Linked DNA regions of Homo sapiens. The protein of the gene in region 2 purifies or fractionates together with the protein of the main gene of each other region. This does not show direct contact. Each region holds a gene or a part of one and is shown on either strand. Other genes may lie near its edges.

The links.
Region 1: the proteins of TLK2 (region 2) and CABIN1 purify together in Homo sapiens (affinity purification with mass spectrometry; 3 studies listed by BioGRID and IntAct, with this or other methods). This does not show direct contact.

Annotation. Positions count from the first base shown.
Region 1 is NC_000022.11:24,014,274-24,021,303, reverse strand, and holds part of CABIN1 (calcineurin-binding protein cabin-1), read right to left. Parts: intron 1-7,030. UniProt on the Homo sapiens protein: May be required for replication-independent chromatin assembly. May serve as a negative regulator of T-cell receptor (TCR) signaling via inhibition of calcineurin. Inhibition of activated calcineurin is dependent on both PKC and calcium signals.
Region 2 is NC_000017.11:62,481,799-62,488,828, reverse strand, and holds part of TLK2 (serine/threonine-protein kinase tousled-like 2), read right to left. Parts: intron 1-7,030. UniProt on the Homo sapiens protein: Serine/threonine-protein kinase involved in the process of chromatin assembly and probably also DNA replication, transcription, repair, and chromosome segregation. Phosphorylates the chromatin assembly factors ASF1A and ASF1B.

The DNA of each region.
Region 1 (7,030 bases), on a different chromosome or scaffold from region 2:
TCATGCCTGTAATCCCAGCACTTTGGGAGGCTGGGGTTGGAGGATCCTTTGACTCCAGGAGTCCGAGACCACCCTGGGCAAGATAGTGAGACCCCCATCTCTAAAATAAATAAATAAATAAATAAATAAAATAAAAATTAGCCAGGCATGGTGATATGCACCTGTAGTCCCAGCTACTGAGCAGACTGAAGTGGGAGGATCACTTGAACCCAGGAGTTCAAGGCTGCAGTGAGCCATGATCACACCACTGCATTCCAGCCTGGGATACACAGTGAGACCCTGTCTCAAAAAAAAAAAATTTTTTTAAAGACAAATCAAGTGGAGAAAAAATGAGGAGACAGATGATTGATCTAAACAACATAACAGAGGAGATGATATAGATGTATATCAAACTCCACACCTTGATAACAGAAATGATATATTCTTCTCCAGTGCTCACAGCACATTCACACACACACACACACACAAAAACTGCTCATGTCACAAAGAAAACACCTTCCATCAAGTAAAGATACTAAAAACAACACTTGCCAATCATAATGCTTAAAACTAGAATTTACTAACACGACCATCACCACCAACAGAAGAAAGGTGTGTCTATCTAAAAATTTGAGAATCTCCTGATAAACAACTTCCAGATAAAAGGAAATGCAATGAAAATGTTGGAGAAATTTAAAGAAATACTAACGGACAGACATGGTGGCTCATGACTGTAATCTGCCTATAATCCCAGCACTTTGGGAGGCTGAGGCAGGAGTTTGAGACCAGTCTGGGCAACATAGGGAGACCTCATCTCTACAAAAAAAATTTTAAAATTAGCTGGGTATAGTGGCACATGCCTGTAATCCCAGCTACTTGGGAGGCTGACGGAGGAGGATCATTTGAGCCTGAGAAGTTGAGGCAGCAGTAAGCAGTAATTGCACCACTGTATGCCGGCCTGGGTGACAAAGTGAGACCCCGTATCAAAAATAAAAAAATAAAAAATAGATACTAACAAAAAAACACACATCACATGTGAAAACACAATGTAATCATCTAAGGGAAAAATAATTACATGATTATCTCCACAGAAGGGAAAGTCTGACAAAATTCAATATCTATTCATAATAAAAAATACTCAGGAAAATACAGAAATTGAGATACTTTAATATATAAATACACCTTAGTCCTAAAGCCAAAATCTTATTTCATGGGCAAACCTTATTTCAGAGGCATGTCCATTAATTTCAGAGATTAATATCAAGAACAAAGCAAAAATGTCCACTATCTCTGCTACTATCCACCTGTGCAATATTAGCCAATAAAATTAGAAGAGATAAATCAATTAGAGATATAAAAATGGGTAAAGGCCAAGCACAGTGACTCACGCCTGTAATCCCAGCACTTTGGGAGGCTGAGGTGAGTGGATCATCTGAGGTCGGGAGTTCAAGACCAGCCTGACCAACATGGAGAAACCCCGTCTCTACTAAAAATACAAAATTAGCTGGGCATGGTGGCGCATGCCTGTGATCCCAGCTACTCGGGAGGGTGAAGCAGGAGAATTGCTTGAACCCAGGAAGCAGAGGTTGTGGTGAGCTAAGATTGCACCATTGCACTCCAGCCTGGGCAACAAGGGCGAAACTCCGTCTCAAAAAAAAAAAAAAAAAAAAAAAAGGGTAAAGAAAAGCTATCACTAATTGTAGATAATATGATATACTACCTGGAAAACCCCAAAATCAATGATAAAATTTATTCAATAATAACTCAGCAGGCGGGGCATGGTGGCTCATGCCTGTAATCCCAGTGCTCTGCGAGGCTGAGGTGGGTGGATTGCTTGAGGTCAGCAGTTCGAGACCATCCTGGCCAACACGGTGAAACCCTGTCTCTACCAAAAATACAAAAATTACAGGCTCACGCCTGTAATCCCAGCACTTTGGGAGGCCAAGGCAGGAGGATCAAGAAGTCAGGAGTTCGAGGCTAGCCTGACCAACATGGTGAAACCCTGTCTCTACCAAAAATACAAAAAATCAGCCGGGCATGGTGGCGCATGCCTGTAATCCCAGCTACTCAGGAGGCTGAGGCAGGAGAATCACTTAAACTCAGGAGGCGGAGGTTGCAGTGAGCCAAGATTGCCCCACTGCACTCCAGCCTGGGCGACAGAGTGAGACTCCTTCTCAAAAAAAAAAAAAAAAAAAAAAAAAAAACAACACTCAGTGAAGTTGCACAATATAAGATTAATACATAAAAATCAATAGCCTTCATATATACAAACCATAAAAGAAGACATTATGGTAGAGAAAAATCCCATTTGCAATAGCAACAAGATCATTAAATACTTAGGAATAAAGTTAATTAAAACTGTGCAAGAAAAAGTTTAAATCACTATTAAAAGACACTAAAGTTAACTTGAACAAATGAAATGACATCCCCTGTTCCTGGATAGGATTCAAAAATATAAAGATGTCAGTTCTTCCCAAGTTAATTTATACATTCAATGCAATCCCAATACAAATACTGACAAGATAATATTGACAAGTTGATACTAAAATTCATATGGAAAAACAAAAATTTAAGACTAGGAAAACAATGAAAAAAAAACTGTAAGGGGGGATAGGTATAACAGACATTAAAACCTACTGTACAAAGCCTTCATAATGAAACAGTGAGGTACTGCTGCATATGTACACAAAAAGATGAGGTCCAGAATTAGACTCAAGTACATATGGAAATAAAAAATATGGCAAAGATGGCATCTCAAATCACTAGAGTCAAGATGAACTTTGTATTAAATACTGCTGGAACAGTATTCACTGTTGGAAAAAGATAACTCACAAGAATAAACTTGCAAATGAATTAGAAATCTAAATGATAAAAAATGAAACCATACAACTACTAAAGGAGATACTGGTGAATTCCTCTTTAACCTTTGTATTAACACTTAGTATTACGTAGTAGAGAAGGGCCAAATATGATTTAAAATTCACAAACAGTAAAAGAGTGATACATTTAACTACATAAAAATTTAAAAATTTTTGCATGACAAAAAAAAATTTAAAAACTCAGAAAAAAAATTAAAAGCTAACAAATTGGGAGAAAATATTTGCAACATATACCACTGACAAGGGACTAATACCCCTAATATACAAACAGCTCTTAAAAACTGAGAAACAGGATGGGCATGGTGGCTCACACCTTTAGTCCCAGCACTTTGGGAAGCCGAGGTGAAAGGATTGCTTGAGGCCAGGAGTTCAAAACCAGCCTGGGCAACACAGAGAGACTCCATCTCTACAAAAAATTTAAAAATTAGCCAGGGCATGGTGGTACACATCTGTAGTCCCAGCTACTCAGGGCAGTTGAGGTAGAAGGTTGAGGCTACAGTGAGCTGTGATCACGCCATTGCATTCCAGCCTGGGTGACAAGAGCACCATACTATTTTAAATAAATAAATAACGTTTTACAACTGAGGGACACAGCATTACTTACAATAGTCGAAAGGTGGCCTCCTTTAAGCTGAAGCTAAGAAAAAAAAAAAAATGGTGAAAGCAACCCAACTGTTCATGACAGATGAATGGCTAAACAAAATGTAGTATATACATACAATGAAACATTTATTATTCAGCCTTAAAAAGGAAGGTAATCCTGACACATGTCACAAAAAAGAAGGCAATTCCGAAATATGCTACAACGTGGATGAACCTTGAAGACATTACAGTAAGTCGAATAAGCCAGTCATAAAAAGACAAATATTGTACGATTCCATGTATATAACGTACCTACAGTAGTCAAATTCATAGAAACAGAAAGTAGAATAGTGGCCACAGGGCTAGGGGAGGGAAGAATGGGAATTCCTGTTTAATGGATACAGAGTTTCAGTTTGAAAAGATGAAAAAAGTTCCGGAGATGGATGGTGGTGATGGCTGCATAACAATGTGGATGTATTTAATGGCACAAAATGGCACACTTAAAAAATGGTTAAAATGATAAATTGGGTCAGGCGCAGTGGCTCACGCCTGTAATCCCAGCACTTTGGGAGGCTGAGGCAGGCGGATGAGGAGGTCAGGAGATGGAGACCATCCTGGCTAACACAGTGAAACCCTGTCTCTGCTAAAAATACAAAAAAATTGGCTGGGCATGGTGGCACGCGCCTGTAGTCCCAGCTACTCGGGAGGCTGAGGCAGGAGAATTGCTTGAACCCAAGAGGTGGAGGTTGCAGTGAGCCGAGATCGCGCCATTGCACTCCAGCCTGGTGAGGGAGACTCCATCTCAAAAAAAAAAAAAAAAAAAAGATAAATTGTATGTTGCTTATATTTTATCACAATTTTTTTTAAAAAGCTAAAGAACAGAAAAACAAAAACCTGGTAGACAAATGGAGAAAAAATACGAACAGATAAATCACAAAAGAAGACGCAACTAGCTCTAAAACATATGAAAAAATGTTCAAATCATTCATAGAGATATGCATATTAAAACAAAACAACACTAGACACTATTTCTCACTGCAAAAATTAAAGCATGACAGCACACACTGTTGGCGAGGTTGTGGAGAAACAGGCGCTATTCTCATACACTGTTGGAAATTGGTACAACCCTTCTGGAGGGAAATTTGACTATATCTGAGAAAACTACATATGCATTTACCTTTCAACCCAGCAATTCCACTTCTAGAAACTACCCTGAATATGTACCTCCAACAATACAAAAATACATATGCACAGAATTATTCACCGTGCAGCACTGTTTGTAACTGCAAGATAATGGAAGCAGCTTAAATGGCCATAGATAGGAGAGTAGATGAATAAACTATTATAACGTACTATGGTACATACTATGGTACATTCATGTAATGAAGTACTATGCAGCTGTAAAAATTAATGAGGCAATGTTCATAGCAACATAATTCAAAATAATGCATAAGTAGAAACCCAAAATCCATCAACTGATAAATGGATAAACAAAAGGTGGTATATCCATAAAATGGAATATTATTCAGCCATAAAAATAATGAAACACTGACAACATGGATGAACCATGAAAACATTATCCTAAGTGGAAGAAGCCAGTAACAAAATACCACATATTGTATGATCCCATTTACATGAAATGTCCAAAACAGGCAAATTTATAAAGTCAGAAAGTGGATTTGTGGTTGCCTAGAGCTGGGGGAAGACAGGATGGGAAGTAACTGCTAATTGCTAATGGATCAGGGTTTCTTTTAAGGGTGATAAAAATGTTCTAAAATGTATTGCGATGATGCTTGCATAACTGTGTATGTACTAAAAACCACTCAATTGTATACTTAAATCGGTCAATTGTAAGGTATGTAAATTATATCTCAATAAAGATGTTTTTGCTTGTTTGTGTTTTCTTGAGACCGGGTCTCGCCCTGTCGCCCTGGCTGGAGTGCAGTGGCGCGATCTCGGCTCTCTGCAACCTCTGCCTCCCGGGTTCAAGCGATACTCCTGCCTCAGCTTCCCGGGTAGCTGGGACTACATGCATGCACCACCATGCCCAGCTAATTTTTTTTGTATTTTTAGTAGAAAGGGGTTTCACCATGTTGGTCAGGCTGGCCTCAAACTCCAGACCTCAAATGATCTGCCCACCTCAGCCTCCCAAAGTCTGGGATTACAGGCGTGAGCCACCATGCCTGGCCTCAATAAAGATGTTTTTAAAAATTAATGAGGGGCCGGGCGCAGTGGCTCATGCCTGTAATCCTAGCACTTTGGGAGGCTGAGGCGGGCGGATCACAAGGTCAGAAGATCGAGACCATCCTGGCTAACACGGTGAAACCCCGTCTCTACTAAAAATACAAAAAATTAGCCAGGCGCGGTGGTGGGCGCCTGTAGTCCCAGCTACTCGGGAGGCTCAGGCAGCAGAACGGCGTGAACCCGGGAGGCGGAGCTTGCAGTGAGCCGAGATAGCGCCAATGCACTCAGGCCTGGGCAAAAGAGCGAGACTCCGTCTCAAAAAAAAAAAAAGAATGAAGAAGATCTCTATGAACAGATATGGGGTGATTTTCAAGACACACTATTCTTTTTTTTTTTTTTTTTTTTTTTTGGAGATGGATTCTCACTCGGCCGGTCACCCAGGCTGGAGTGCAGTGGTGCAATCTCGGCTCACTGCAACATCTGCCTCCCAGGTTCAAGCGATTCTCCAGCCTCAGCCTTCCAAGTGGCTGGGATTACAGGTGCCCACCACCACACCCGGCTAATTTTTTTGTATTTTTAGTAGAGACGGGGTTTCACCATGTTGGCCAGGCTAGTCTTGAAATCCTGACCTCAGGCAATCTGCCCACCTCAGCCTCCTAAAGTGCTGGGATTACAGGCATGAGCCACCACGCCTGGCCTAAAACATACTATTAAGTGAAAAAAGCAAACACAATTATCTATATAGCATGTCACCTTCGTATAAGAAAGAAGAGGATGTGAAAAAATACACAACTAACTGTTCACTTGTGCGAAAGAAACACGAGATAATCCAGATACCAAAGTTAGCTATACAGGGTAGGTGGGAAAGCGGTGAAAAGAAGGGGTGAATGGGAACAGGGCAGTAGGCATAAGAAGGGAAAGACACTTCTCTGAGTATACCTTTGTGTGTAGCTCTGACTCTCAGAAATCAGTCATAATTCATACCGCAAAAACAACTAAAATCAGCTAGGATGCAGGGGGAACTCAAAATGAAATATAAACACTAACAATGAACCTAACTATTACAACTAACATAACCACTCTGAAAGGCATGAGGAAGAAAGGAACTAACCTAAGTAACTGTAGAAAATGGTATCTTGACTGGATAGGCTAAAGACAAAAAGAACTGATTCCAGAGTTGGGTCAGAGAAAACACAAGATGAGCCTGGAACACCTTGTGGTGTGCCATAAAGTAAGTGCTTGAAGGAAAAAAAAAAAAATGAGGGCCAGTTGATAGGCCACAGAAGCTAACCTGAAGGAGATCCTAACTAAATAGCCAATGCTGGAACAGTAAGCAACAAAATAATGATGATAATGAATTTTAACTCATAGAATATAATACATATCCATGGCCTACACTGACACAT
Region 2 (7,030 bases):
AAAAAAAATCTTCAAGGCCCTCGTACTGACCAAGAGGAAGACAAAGGTATTAACATTAACCTTTGATAAGTTAAAAATATCTGTTGTAATTTCTGTGGTAACCAATAAAAGAACAGAAAGAGTGCAAGACTTCCAAACTAGAATTTCAAGTTATGAATAAAAACAGTCTGGATTAAGGCAGTAGCAATGGGGGCAGAAAAACACTTCAGAAATTTCAGAGAAAGAGGCACGTGTTGGTACTTGACTACATGTGAAATAAGGAGGAAATCAAATAAATACTAAAGTAAATTAATCCACAGTTCCTTAAAATGCATCAATATAAGTATAGGCCATTTCTCAGCATTCATACTTGTTGAGAATTGTCAGGCATGTAATTAAATGTAAGACATACAAACATTTTTAAAAAATGAAAGTGACTTTGGTATGTGAAAAAGCTGACACTAGATATTCATAACTGAAAGCTTCTAATTGCTGCAATGAACTACATGAAAAGAAAGGTATCAGTTGGTTAAATACCTTTTCAGAAGTCAATTTGATTATATAATGTGATGTATCAGACTTAAAAATTTATAAAAGATAGAAAAAGAGTTCCTTGGCCCGGGCACGGTGGCTGACGCCTGTAATCCCAGCACTTTGGGAGGCCAAGGCGGGTGAACTCCAGAGGTCAGGAGTTCGAGACCAGCCTGGCCAACATGGTAAAACCTCGTCTCTATTAAAAATACAAAAATTAGGTGGGCATGGTGGCGGGCACCTCCCAGCCACTCGGGAGGCTGAGGCAGCAGAATCGCTTGAACCCGGGAGGTGGAGATTGCTGTGAGCAGAGATCATGCCACTGCACTCCAGCCTGGGCGACAAGAGTGAAACTCCGTCTCCAAAAAAAAAAGTGAGAACTTAAAAGATACTTGCCGCCGGGCGCACTGGCTCACACCTGTAATCCCAGCACTTTGGGAGGCCGAGGTAGGCAGATCACTTGAGGTCGGAAGTTCAAGAACAACCTGACCAACATGAAGAAACCCCACCTCTAATAAAAATACAAAATTAGCCGGGCGTGTTGGCGCATGCCTGTAATCCCAGCTATTTGGGAGGCTGAGGCAGGAGAATCACTTGGACCTGGGAGGCGGATGTTGCGGTGAGCCGAGATCATGCCATTGCACTCCAGCCTGGGCAACAAGAGTGAAACTCCGTCTCAAAAAAAAAAAAAAAAAAAAGATACTTGCCAAGGATTTAAGTAAAGAATTCCTGCAGATTAAAAGAATATCATAAATTTTTACAGATATCTCCTTGCTGACTTACTTTTTTTTTTTTTTTTTGAGACGGAGGCGCACTCTGTTGGCCATGCTGGAGCGCAATGGCGCGATCTCAGCTCACTGCAACCTCTGCCTCCCACGTTCAAGCAATTCTCCTGCCTCAGCCTCCTGAGCAGCTGGGACTACAGGCGCGTGCTGACTTATCTAGTCTTTCTAGGGCGGTTAACTTAGTTCTCTTGGAAACAATTCTTTCATTTTGCAATCATATTTCTTTCTTTTTTTTTTTTTTTGAGACAGAGTCTCGCTCTGTCGCCCAGGCTGGAGTGCAGTGGCATGATCTCGGCTAACTGCAACCTCCGACTCCCTGGTTCAAGTGATTCTCCCGCCTTAGCCTCCTGAGTAGCTGGGATTACAGGCACATGCCACCACGCCCGGCTTATTTTTTGTATTTTTAGTAGAGACGGGTTTTGGCATGTTGGCCAGGACGGTCTCGATCTCCTGACCTCGTGATCTGCCTGCCTCGGCCTCCCAAAGTGCTGGGATTACAGGCGTAAGCCACTGCGCCCAGCCTGCAATCATATTTCATTGCATTATGCAATTGTGTATTAAATAGAATAATTACAACACAAGTGTAAGTTATTGTAAAATGATCATTGACATGGCTATAATTCAACTGGTGGGAGCAATGTGATAAGCATCAGTCAGTATGGCTTATAAAGAGAGAATGGAGAATGCCTATTAATCCAGTGAGTTGATTATGTACAGATTTGTTAACCATTATCCCTGTTATAAAAGATCTAAATTCATTTCTTATTGCTTTTGTTGTACTGTTGGAACAGTACCTGGCACACAGTATTATAAGTATTTGCTACTGTATTAGCATTGATATCCAACTAGGTACAAGTAACAATGCATGCAAGGGTGAAATTCTGCCTACTTTACATGGTCTCCAGAACTGCTGAGACTATCTGTACTTAAACTGTCAAAAGGGAGCAGGGTGTGAAATATAAACTGCAACAGGTTGATTGAAAACATATGAATTCAAGATATAGTCAGTTTCACATTACTAGAAGTAGATCATCCAGTGCTTACAGGAAGAGGTCTTTAAAAAGAGGTAGGACAGGCCAGGCGCGGTGGCTCACGCCTGTCATCACAGCAATTTGGGAGGCCGAGGCGGGCGGATCATGAGGTCAAGAGAGAGAGACCATCCTGGCCAACTAACATGGCAAAACCCCATCTCTACTAAAAATATAAAAATTAGCTGAGAATAGTGGCACACGCCTGTAGTCCTAGCTACTTGGGGAGGCTGAGGCAAGAGAATCGCTTGAACCTGGGAGGCAGAGGCTGCAGCGAGCCGAGATCGCGCCACTGCACTCTAGCCCAGGTGACAGAGTGAGACCCCGTCTCAAAAAAAGAGGTAGGACAGCTCACATGTCAAGTCAACAAGACATAAAGAACTAGCAGCCGGGTGCAGTGGCCCATACCTGTAATCCCAGCACTTTGGGAGGCCAAGGTGGGCAGATCACGAGGTCAGGAGATCGAGACCATCCTGGCTAACACGGTGAAACCCCGTCTCTACTAAAAATACAAAAAATTAGCTGTGCGTGGTGGCAGGCACCTGCAGTCCCAGCTACTCGGGAGGCTGAGGCAGGAGAATGGCGTGAACCTGGGAGGCGGAGCTTGCAGTGAGTAGAGATTGCATCACTGCACTCCAGCCTGGGCGACAGAGTGAGATTCCGTCTCAAAAAAAAAAAAAAAAAAAAAACCAGAAAATTACTAGGTTCACAACCCAGTTTAACCTTATCACCTCAAAACTGCTAAGACGATGGCTCCAGGTCCTCCTAAAAAGGGGCAGCTAGACTAGAGAGCCTGCTATAGACTTTTGGGTGCACATTACTACTTTCCCCTCATCAGTTCATGACAGAAAACGTCAATCTTTTAAACAAAAACCAAATAGTGCATCCCAAAGCCCAAAATAAATGACTTTTGTTTTACCATTATTATGAAGTAAATATGCTGAGAAACTGAGTACCTACCTATAAACACACTATGCAAGAAAATTAAAAATTTGCACTATGCAAGAAAATTAGAAATAAAAAATTAAAAACCTAAATATAGGTAATGAGCAACTTAAATATAAGTAATAGATGTGGAGATTTGGCCATTTTGTTTTAGTCTAAGTAATGGAGTGTATATCTAATTTGCAGGTGGAAAAAACTCGAAAGTTATACAACAGAAGATTTACAACAACCAGAAAGTTCAAAGGCTGTAGCTACTTGTAACACTCTTGTCCACTAGGAAAGAATCCACAGTGGCACTGACTTTCTTCCTTCTATGGACATCAAAAAGTACTGAAAAATGTTATGAATAGTTAGGAGAAATTCAAGAGACAGCCCAAGAGGCTGAACCAGTCCCACTAGATGGCACCATCACAGGGAAGTCACTCTGCTCTCTTATTTGGAGCTGCAGGGGCTGAAATCTTTTTTGATCTTTGAAAAACAAAGCTGTCATCAACACAGTGATATTCTTTTTTTGTTTTGTTTTGTTTTTTGAGACGGAGCCTTGCTCTGTCGCCCAGGCTCACTGCAAGCCCCGCCTCCCGGGCTCAGCCATTCTCCTGCCTCAGCCTCCCAGGTAGCTGGGATTACAGGCACCCACCACCAAGCTCAGCTAATTTTTTGTATTTTTTAATAGAGATGGGGTTTCACCGTGTTAGCCAGGATGGTCTCGATCTCCTGACCTCGTGATCTGCCTGCTTTAGCCTCCCAAAGTGCTGGGATTACAGGCGTGAGCCACCGTGCCTGGCCCTAACACAGTGATATTCTTATTGGGAAATAATGATCCAAAATGAGAATTCAAAGCCAGGGAGAGGAGTTTTTCCAAAAGCACCCTTTTCTCCCAGTATCATCATCCCCTCCACACCCCCATTTCAAATCAATAGTCTGAGAGGTACGATGTCTTACTGGTAAAAGAAGTAATACAAAGGCTGGGCGCGATGGCTCACACCTATAATCCCAGCACTTCGGGAGGCTGAGGCGGGTGGATCACCTGAGGTCAGGATTTCGAGACCAGCCTGGCCAACACGGTGAAACTCCATCTCTACTAAAAATACAAAAAATTAGCCGGGTATGGTGGCACGTGCCTGTAATCCCAGCTACTCGGGAGGCTGAGGCACGAGAATTGCTTGAACCCAGGAAGCGGAGGTTGCAGTGAGCTGAGATCGCGCCACTGCACTCCAGCCTGGGCAACAAGAGTGAATCTCTGTCTCAAAAAAAAAAGAAGTCATACGAAATGGAGATTTTCTTTTCCCGGCTCTGCAAACTACAGAATTAATTTTTTTCTTCAAGTTTCTTTGTTATGGAAAAAAAAAATACTCTCCTGCTAGTCCTCAAATAACAAATTCATTGTAATCAATATACTTACCGTGACTGGAAATATCAAAGTAACATACGACTACTTAAGCTGGGCACAGTGGCTCACACCTATAATCCCAGCACTTTGGGAGGCCGAGGCAGGCACATCACAAGGTCGGGAGTTCGAGATCAGCCTGGCCAATATGGTGAAACCCCATCTACTAAAAATACAAAAATTAGCTGGGCATGGTAGCAGGTGCCTATAGTCCCAGCTACTCAGGAGGCTGAGGCAGGAGAATAGCTTGAACCCGGGAGGCAGAGATTGCAGTGCGCCGAGATTGTGCTACTGCACTCCAGCCTGGTTGACAGAGCAAAACTCTGTCTCAAAAAAAAAACAACTAATGGAATAAAAACAACTGGAAATAAAGCTGGGTGCAGTGGCTCATGCCTGTAATCCCAACACTCTGGGAGGCAGAGGCAGGTGGATCATTTGAGGTCAGGAGTTCAAGACCAACCTGTCCAACATGGTAAAACCCCATCTCTACTAAAAATACAAAAATTAACAGGGTGGTAGTGGCGCACGCCTGTAATCCCAGCTATCTATAGGCTGAGGCAGGAGAATTGCTTGAGACTGGGAGATGGAGGTTGAGGTGAGCCGAGATCGTGCCACTGCACTCCAGCCTAGGCTAGAGAGTGAGACCCTCTCAAAAACAAACAAAAAAACTGGAAATAGGTAAATTTCTTTTTCTGTACAGAGAACTTCTTTCTATGTTAAAGGTAGAATTTCCTATTAAACAGATAGGTTACTGTATTAAAGTTTTCTGATACCTTAGTTACATGACTTTAAGTTGGGTCTAGACAGCAACATGTTGAATGTCACTCATTCTTATCACTTATGCCCTACTCCATCAAAAGTATACTTGAATACAGCCATCACGAACCTAAAAACAGAACAACAACCCTAATCCAAAGATCAGTGAGCTTAACTATGTAAAATTTGAATACAAACTTACTGACTTACGGGAGGCGGGGGTGGGGGGACCATTTAAACAGACAGATCTGGACATTAGCCTTATGCTCAATCTTCAAGTTAAAAAGACACATCAGAGGTCATTTAGAGATCAATTTAGTATTCAAATATATTGCTCACTTCTATTTGAAGCTACTTCACCTAGATCAGAGAGTTTACATTTGTAAATGTAACTTCAGTATACAACGTCCAGGGGCACAGCCACTCTAAAGTGCCACAAAAGTAAACTGTTTAAGTGGCCAAAGAAATTAAGAATATGTAACAAATCCTGTGTTCCCACAGCACCTTGTCACAGCTCTAATACAGATCTCATCACGGTATCATCTCTCTCTCCCCATACTGCAGATGTGGAGGTACTGTGCTCAAGCATCAGCCCTAACACCTTGCACAATGCCTAGCATACAGCAGGTGCTCAATATTTGTTGAATAAACAAAAACTATCAAGCTGGTTGGGCGTGGTGGCTCATGCCTGTAATCCTAGCACTTTGGAACACCAAGACAGGCAGATCACTGGAGGTCAGGAGTTCGAGACCCAGCCTGGCCAACATGGAGAAACCCTGTCTCTACTAAAAATAAAAAAAATTAACCAGGCATGGTGGTGCATGCCTGTAATCCCAGCTACTCAGGATGCTGAGGCAAGAGAATCGCTTGAACCCAGGAGGCAGAGGTTGCAGTGAGCCCAGATTGTGCCACTGCACTCCAGCCTGGGTGACAGAGCAAGGCTCTGACTCAAAAAAAAAAAAAACAAAACCCTATCAAGCTATCCCGGCTCACCAAAACTGTGAGACCCATCAAAGAAGCCCATTTTTCCAACTAAACCTCAACACGCCTTCTCCTTGGAGAAGCTACTAACTAAAGCACGAGATCAACACCCAGGTTACCATGAGACAGGATTTCTTGAAAAGCACAGAAACAAATGTTGTATCACACTGGTTAAAGATCAAAAGCTCAGCCAGGCACAGTGGCTCCTGCCTGTGATCCCAGCACTTTGGGAGGCTGAGGCAGGTGGATCACCTGAGGTCAGGAGTTCGAGACCAGCCTGGCCAACATGGTGAAACCCCATCTCTACTAAAAATACAAAAATCAGCTGGGCGTGGTGGCGGGCACCTGTAATCCCAGCTACTCAGGAGGCTGAGGCAGGAGAATCATCACCTGAACCCAGGAGGTGGAGGCTGCAGTGAGCCGAGATCACGCCATTGCACTCCAGCCTCGGCGACAAGAGGAAAACTCTGTCTCAAAAAAAAAAATTCAGTAGCTCATACGTTCACACATCTCAAGCCCAAGTAATATGATCTTGGACCAATAAAGCTTTTAAATAAAATATCGTAAATATACTTTGCATACTGTATTAAAATCAAACATTTTACACATTGTAAAATCATCCTATGAGAGCAGAGGGG